2 separate regions of the Homo sapiens genome follow, and region 1 is linked to region 2. The links come from fine-mapping of genetic effects on gene expression. Tissue or cell type: subcutaneous fat. Region 2 holds a variant in brackets; the other region holds the start of a gene. All regions are shown on one strand. Distances are from middle to middle.

Region 1 (4,000 bases), 24 kb after region 2:
GTGTGTGTGCATGTGTGTAGGGGTGTGTGTGTGTGCACTACATGAACTGTGATTGGCCAAAAGGAGGCTGAGGGTAAGTGCTGTAGACCCAGACCTTTTGTGTGTGAATGCTAGCTTCATCATTGACCAGCTGTGTGACTTTGGGCAAGATCCTTGCCTTCTCTGTGACTCAGTTCCTCTGCTGTGAAATGGGTATGCTAATGGTGCCTACCTTCTAGGGTGGCTATGAGGATTAAACGAATTATAATATGTACGTAGCACCTAACACAGCTCCTGACGCCCAGCAAATAATCCAAATATTGTGGGTTATTGTGTTTTATAATTAATGGGCAAGAGAAGGCAAGGCTGAAGGGCTGGGAGAGCCCTGGGGTGGGGGTCTGGCTGTAGCCCCAGGGCAGCAGGATGAGCCCCCTCCCTCAGCCCCCTTGGCTGTTCTCACACTCTCTGCGGGGCAGTCCTGACCGCCTATTTATCATCAGAAGATCCCCGCACAACACTCTTCTGGCGCGGTTGGCGCGGCAGAATCCAGGATGCACACGAGGACGCCCACGGGGCGTGTGGGGACCGTGCCCCTCCGCAGACCTCTCCCGGATCACCTGCTCCACACGCAGGCCTTGGTGACCCCTCAGCCTGCTGCTCCTTGCTTCCGCCCGCCCTGCTGTGGGTCCCGCACCTTCTCAGTGTGCCATGCCTTGCATTCAAGCTGGTCCTAGTCACAGCCAGGACCTCCTCAGCGCGCAGAGACTTTCAGATGATCTTTGTAGGGGTTTTTGCCTCCGGTCAACTGCGCCCCTTAGGAAGGGCTTTGGAGGACACAGATCACAGAACAGTTTCAGCTCCACCACTTCCTAGCTTTACGGCCTTGGGCATCTCAGCATTCCTATTCTCTGGGTTATAGGGATATGATGTTTGTCTCTCAAGGCTACTGTGGAGATTACATACTAGAAATTTGCAAGGGCTGGGAATGCAATAGACCGTAAATGTTCCCCTTCCCTTGACGCTATAGCTTAGATGGGAGGGAGCCACTGCTGAGGAAACACCTCCTTAACCCAAAGACAGAGGGTTCCCCAGGCGGGGGTGTGGGAACTCGGAGGTGGGGGTGAGGGAAGGCCAACCTCCACGCTTCGGCCCGGAGGTTCCCCCGCCTCTTCCTGCACGACTGGATTCCTTCTCCATCCGCGCCTCCGGCCCGGTCCCTGCCCCGCCAAATCCGCGCATCGGTTTCCCATCCCATAGCGCAGATAGGTAGGGCAGGTACACAGGGAGGTGTTCGAATGATCCCCGTTTCACAGAAGACGAAACTGAGGCTGGGAGGCCTGGGGACTGGCCCGGCTGCAGCGCCGCCGTTAGCCGAAGGTGGGAGCCGGCGCGGTCACGCGCATGGAGCGTGGATCGCGACGATTTCGGGGGAGGGGGCAAGGGCGCTCCGCAGGCCCTGAGCCGGCCGGGGGGTGGGGTCTCTGCGGGGCGGGGCGGGGCGGGGCGAGGGAGAAGGGGCAGGCCGCCGCTGCCACGCAGTACTCCCGCCTTGGCGCCAGAGGGGCGCGGGACGGTGCGGTCGGCCTCCCCGCCTCCACGCGCGCGCACGACCCGCGCACTCCCGGAGCTTCGCCCATCTCGCCTCGCCGCGCCGCGCAGGCAGCCGCTCGCAGAGCCAGCAGCCGGGGCCCTGGCGTGCAGCGCGGGCCTCGGCGGGGCCCAGCGCCCCGGCCCGGGAGGATGCGGCCCGGGGCGGCCCGGGAGCTGAGCAGGGCCCCCGCGCCGGCCCCTCCGGGCCCCGGCCTCCAGAGCCGCAGCCACCGCCCCGCCCCCGAGAGACATGACTTCCAAGCCGCATTCCGACTGGATTCCCTACAGGTACGCGGGCGCCGGGCCGGGGCGCCCACCACTCCCGACTCGGGACGTGAGCTGGCTGGGGATACGCGGCCGGGGCGCAGGGCACCGCTGCCCTCCCCACCTATCCCAGCACTGGGGCGCGGGTTGGAGTCGCTGGTCCTTCCTCCCTCAACTTTGAGGGCCCCTGCGGACTGCTCCCGCCTGCCCCGCTCCACCCCCTTATCTGCCAGGGTTGCTGGAAGGGGCCTGTGTGGGCCTTGTTGGGTCAGGCAGCACCATGTGGCCGCCTGGGGAAGGAGTCCACACTGCTCTGAGCCCCCTCCTAGGCCCAGAACCCCAGTCACACGCCTGTGCAGGGTGCGCGCACACGCTCATACATCTGCACGCATGCACCCACAGGACGTCCCTGCCTTGGGCCAAAGACGCTCCTGCTGGTCGGTTCACACTCTCAAAGCATGGATCCGTGAAGACAGTTATTCTGAACCAAGAGCACACCAGTGGTCATGTGGACATGCACCCGTATATTCTACACACAAGAATTCTTGGGCTCACAAAGACACATGCCTGCATATCTGTGCACGTCCACCTCCTGTATCTGGAGAATAACTGACACCTGCTTCTCACTCACAAGTGCTACTCAGTCTCTTTCAGACACTGAATAATCTACTTGCTAGCAGGTCTATACCTAGACACACACCAGCTCACAGTACATAGAACTGCCCTCACATGCAGAAAGGCACTCAAGAATCCAGGCACACTCAGGGAAGCCCCCCACCCTCTGCTGCCAGGCACTGTGGTCTATCTCAAGGATGGCTGGGCTTTCCCATTTGCCTGGGAAGGGGGCGGGGAGGTGGTCTCTGGGGGGCCCCTCACAGGTGCAGGTCTTTCCCTATCCACTCTACTCCATTCTATTACCAGGGAAGGGAGCTCATCGCCATGGCAGCGCCAGATTCTTGGCCACCCATTGGCTCCTTGGTTGCCATGGGCTACGGGGCTGTCTCTGTGGAAAATGGGTGCTGGACTCCTAAGGCCCACTGTGTTATTGTCGACCCAGGTGCACGTGCTAGCGGACGGCAGGATGAGATCCTCAGGTCCCGCCTTGTAACACAGCTTGCTCTCTGTTAGAGCCTCATACCAGTCACTGATAGAAAATAGTTCTGACAGGGCTCTTCTCTGAGTCTGTCCAGACAGCGTCCCAAATGGAAACCAGCTGAAACCGCCCAAGGCTTCTTAAAAGCAGATCCTTCTGAAAACAGGCACGTGGCCTGGGAACTCAGGGTTTCTCTTGAGAATTGTTACCTCTAATCTCAGCTCCTGTGGGGGATTCAGGGGTTTCCAGGTTATTTTGTGTCTCTCCCCACAACCACCAGCAACACCCTCACACGTGCGCACATACAGGTCACCCACAGGCTCTCCTGCAGACACATGTAGTCACACTTCAGTCTCACATGGATTAGGGAGCTGTTTCCATCATGGAACCAGGGACTGGGGCTGTGCTGACTGAGAAGAGCTGCTGCGCCAGACAGACGTCCAGGCTGGGGCACAGGTAGTTTCTGGAGGATCCTGGCCTTTCTTGGCACATGTGGGCTGAGGACCTTCTAGAAGACAGTGCAGCCCCATGGAGCGTCATCAACCTTTTCTAGCCACGCGGCAGAGGTGCCTGGGCGGTGCTTGTGGGCTGAGTGGACTCCGGTGCTGTGGAAGTACCTGTGTGCGGGGGTCCAGATGGCAGGGTGGTGGCCATGGACCGAGGAGGGTGGGAGGGGCAGCACTTACGGCTGTGGAGATTATGACGTGGTTAGGATCTGGCAAACTGGAGGTTGGGCCAGGCCAAGACATGGTTCTAGAAAGCTTCTCCCAGGGAGCCAGGGACTAAAGCCACTTGTAGAGAGTGTGCAGGGGTCTTAGAGAAAATATGCCTCAAACGGAATGGCTTAAGCCTGTTCCTGGGAAAGGTGGCCCAGGAAGGTAGAACTGTCTCTAGGAAATGATCCTGTTCTAGCAAGTGCCTAGGGCCCTGGCATCCTGCAAGGAGTGATTTGGCACTTGCCTCAGCCCAGGTCCAACTACTATCTCCCCTCCACCGCCACCCCTCCAATTCCTTTCCTGGGCCGCAGACTCAGCCCTGAAGCATAGAATCCTGCCTCCCTGGAAGCCTGGCCCC
Region 2 (4,346 bases):
TGAGTGAGCTTTCTGAAGTGGGTGGCGCATACCTCACCATTGCTCTCTAAGGCCTCAGCCATTACTCTGGATTATCGCTGGGTGGCGCTGTAAGAAGGGGTGTACCCCTGAGATGGCTTCCCTGTGCCCATCAGGACCCGGTCTGGCCTGAGGCTGCTCTTAGAGTGTCCTGGGACCACCTAGACAGATGTGCTGGCATCTGCCCATCATGGGCCCCAGAGCCCACCCAGCATCTGCTGCACACTGGCTCCTCCTTGCTCAGATGATGGGGTGGTCCAGGAGGCAGGCCCTTACCCTGGCCGCACAGATGCTGGGTGATGGGAGCAGACAGACAGAGGCCCCTCACCCCAGGACTCAGCTCTGCTGCTGATGGGCTGGGGGTGGGGGCAAGGACAGGGCAAGAGTACAGGATGATGACTGGGGGACAGGATAGAGTCCAACCTTCAGGTGGAGCTGAGGGCTGGGACAGCCAATGACAGTGTGTGCCTCTGCCACCGCCTCAGTCTGGCAAGGCATAGGAAAGGAGCACCCCCTTGGAGTCCTGACAGCACCTGTGGAGTTGGAAGCAGGAGCCCTGGCCTCCCTGCTCACCTTCCCACTAGCCCCTTCGCTCAGGGCCCTGTGACTTCTGATCCCTCCCTGTGACAGGGGAGCCTGGGCTCAGCGTTCACTGCAGCCTGGGCAAGGCCCTTAAGCCCCCAAGAGTCCCGCTCTCACAGGGCATGGGAGGAGCTTCCAGAAGCAGATGGGTGTCCTTGTTTGGGTTGGGGGTGCTGGGGAGAGCAGGAAGGAGCTGGCTGCTGGAGCCGCCTGAGGCTGGATCTGGAGGACACAGAGGTGTTTAGCCAACAGTTCTGTCCTATCCCTTCTCAGCTCTCTGAAGTCCTCCCTGCACCTCAAGCCAGGGCCTGACCTCCAGGGAAGCAAGCTGTCACCACGAGGAAGTGCACCCTAGCTTTCCCACCTCGTGCTACCAGGATGCCCCTCACTCTCCTTAATCCAGGGCATGGGCTCAGAGGGCTGGCTGGGGTCTCCTGTCCTGGAATGTGCGGCCATATGGGAATGCCTTGAGTGTGTGAGGGCCATATGGGAATGCCTGTGCGTGGGGGTGGCATGAGTGTGTGCTGTGAGGTGTGAGTTTGGAGAGAAGTATAAATAAATGATGGGCACATGTGTGTGGTGCGCATGCTTGTGCTGACAGGGGAAGGCAGGGGGACGTCTGGAGTGTCAGTGGGTTGTGGTGGGCAGGGTGAGGCATCCATTTCTGTGAAATGCCTGGGGGGAGGGAAAAGGTATTTGGCACAGTACATGTGGGTACAAAGCACACGAAGGAATTTTGGGTACATATGCGCATGGGAGCCTTTGTGGGGTGTGGTTTGGGTATGCAGGTAGGCTGTGTGTGAGGTAGAGCTGGAGGAAAATCTATCTGTGGAGTGTCTGAGGTGATGTGTGGGAGGCAGCTGTCTACAGGTGAGCTTGTCTCTGAGTGGTATATGGGGTGACATGTTGTTGTGTGTGATGTGGTTTGGGAGGGTGAGGGGTGTGCAGGCATGTCCCCAAAACAAGCACATGGTGTGTCTCAAGTAAGGTGTGGGGGCAGTGATGGGAACGAACTACAGTATGTAGGCCAAGTGTGTGGGGGAAGGGCAAGTGGGCGTTTCATTCTCTCCACACGTCACGAGTTAGGAGGCACCATTTTCCCCCTCAAAGTTGAGGAAACTGAGGCCCACAGAGTGGAAACAAGCTGGCTGGATCACACAGCAGGGTCTGTTAGACTCTCAGGATCCCAGCTCTGGCAGCTCACAAGCTAGGCTCTGGAGGGCTGGGGAGGGGACTGGCCCTCTGGGTAATGGCAGTAATGGAGGGTCCCATTCAGTTCTTTAGGGTGACTCTCCTGGAACTGGCCCACAGACAGCTCATGAGAATCGATTGCGCAATAAAGGAAAATGTTTGTAAGCCCTTTGCTCAACATAGCTGTTATTAAGCATCAAACTGGCCGGGCACAGTTACTCGCGCCTGTAATCCCAGTGTTCCTGGACCAAACCGAGGGTCAGCTGCTTATTCTCAAGGCCCAGTAACGAGATGCAGATGAACTGGGAGAGAGGGGAGTTTTTATTTCTGTAACCGGTCACAGGGAGAAGGCCTGGAAATTATTGCCAGACCAACTCAAAATTACAAAGTTTTCCAGAGCTTATATATCTTCTAAACTATATGTCTATGTGTAAGTGTGCATTCGTCTAAAGACATAAGTGATTAACTTCTTTTAATCTATAACTAAGATTCGAGTCCTGAAGACCTTCCTCTGGGGCCTCAGTAAATTTACTTAATCTAGATGGGTCCAGGTGCCAGGGGTAATTA[CCCT/C]CCTTATCTTGTCCCCTGCGAAGTCACGGAGGTTTGGGGAGTTCCTTCAGCCCTCCAATAAAACTTATTTGTGGAGGCCTGGGGAGTTTCTTCAGACCCCCAATAAAACTTGTTTAACCTTAAACGAGGCCTGTTAAGAATTCCTTCATTATTTTGTCATGCTTTAAGGCCCAGGAAAGGCCTAGGCAAAACTCTTGGTGGGCTTTTGTTACATCCCAGCCTTTGTATAAGGGCACTGGTTCTGTCAGCTTTTAATATTTGACTTAACCACTCAGTCAGTACTGAAACAGTTGTTATGGAGGCCTGTGTTAGTGATGCCTGGCCTGCCGCACCAGCACTTTGGGAGGCCGAGGCAGGAGGATTGCTTGAGGCCAGGAGTTCGAGACCAGCCTGGGCAACATGGTGAGACCCCCATCTCTACAAAAAAATACAAAAATTAGCCAGGCATGGTGGTACATGCCTGTAGTCCCAGCTACTCAGGAGGCTGAGGTGGGAGGATCACTTGAGCCTAGGAGGTCAAGGCCACAGTGAGCCGAGATCACACCACTGCACTCCAGCCTGGGCTACAGAGCAAGATCCTCTCTCTCAAAAATTAAAAAAAAAAAAAAAAAGAAGCGGTATAAATTTAACATTAAACAAGTTATGTTTACAAAGGTAATATACTGAAAACTCACCACTTCGTATTCATTTTACTGCCTTTCCCTGCGCTTGTCTGTTGTGTCTGCGGGGTGGAACTGCCACGTGACCGTGCACTGCTGAGCATCTCCTCGCACTTCGATGCTCAGTCACATCACAGATTGGCCATGGCGAGGGTGGCTAGACCAGGGGAGTCAACAGGTGCTGCACATTAAGACCTGGTTTATTGTTTTGTTGATTGTCTAGACCTGAGAAAGTGATGGGAAAAAATACTACTAATGCAGATTACATTTTAAAGGGTGTCATGTTTATAGTTGCTCCATGGTGAATAGCAGAAAACAAAGATTTTTCCAGTATTCAGAAACTATTAACCTATTCAGCAAAGAAGTCACTCCGACCACCAGTGAAGGAGTGAAGTTCTGACATGTCTTTGTTGTTTCACTTTCAACTTACTTGTTAACATAAATGAAAATATCAAGCAGCATTAAGCTGGAACTACAGTAATTTGTCATTGCAACCGTAGGTTGGCTACAGATAAAGAGTTAGGCGAAACTCATTGAATGGGTTGATTTCTGGGACAGTCATCTGGCTATATGGAATTTACAATAAAGAATATTGGATATTTCATTAGTATTTGTAAATTATGTGCTATACATCCTTTGTGTCAGTAAAATTTATAATAAACTTATTGAGTCTACGCATGCAGACATTTTCTGGAGAGCTTGTTGTTAAATGTCACTGTTAACACCCCGTAGGCCCTCCATTACACATAGTCCCAACATGTCTCCTTACTGTGCAGACGGTGAGGTAGGGTGGGGTGGAGGGACAGATGTAACTTGCAGAGACCCTGGGAGCAGTGTCTTAGGTTTCCAGACAAGCTGTGGCTTGTCACTAGATCAGCCTGACCTCCTCCTGGCCGGGGGCACTGGGGCTCAGGTGGGGGTCCCGTTCATTGGTCCCTTCTCTGTAGCAGGCTCAGGGATTTACAGGTCAGAGGAAGAAGACGTGGTCACTGCCTGTATGGAGCTCACAGCCCAGCAGAGGAGACATCCAGTCGCAGTTAGTTACACCCTGGAGAGTACAGGGGCAAAAAAAGAAGAAATTGCCCAGCTGAGGCAGGAGCGAGGCTGGGACAAGAGGAGCTGCTCAGCGGAACAGTGCCTCTCGACATTTAGTGTGCAGCATCCACAGATTTGTGTTAAAAATGCGGAGATTCTCTTTTGGCAGGTCTGGGCAGGGTGGTGCCCGGGAGTATGCTAGGGGATGGTGAAGCAGGTACCCAAGGGCACACTGGGAAAAGCCTTGATCTGAGGAGACGAGAGGGTGTGTGCTGAGGCAGGAGATGAGAA

Direction of the effects. Positions count from the first base shown, and alleles are read on the strand shown. Sizes are in standard deviations (SD) of each study's normalised expression.
In carriers of allele C in region 2, the expression in subcutaneous fat of the gene that starts at base 1,520 in region 1 tends to be lower than with CCCT alone (small effect, 0.19 SD a copy in GTEx).

What was found. PIP is the estimated chance that this variant, and not a neighbour inherited with it, causes the effect.
Region 1: TUB starts here. The variant in region 2 is fine-mapped to the expression of TUB in subcutaneous fat (GTEx, PIP 0.92).

What each region holds. Positions count from the first base shown.
Region 1 is chr11:8,079,692-8,083,691 of GRCh38, forward strand. It overlaps TUB (TUB bipartite transcription factor), which reads left to right and starts at 1,520. Exons shown (of 12, transcript NM_177972.3): 1 at 1,520-1,857. The coding sequence starts at 1,820. RefSeq lists an enhancer at 3,471-4,000.
Region 2 is chr11:8,055,266-8,059,611 of GRCh38, forward strand. It overlaps a transcript of TUB not described here. Among named protein-coding and RNA genes, the nearest start is that of TUB-AS1, 2.6 kb to the right of the region's middle. The variant CCCT/C (reference allele first, on the strand shown) is at 2,359.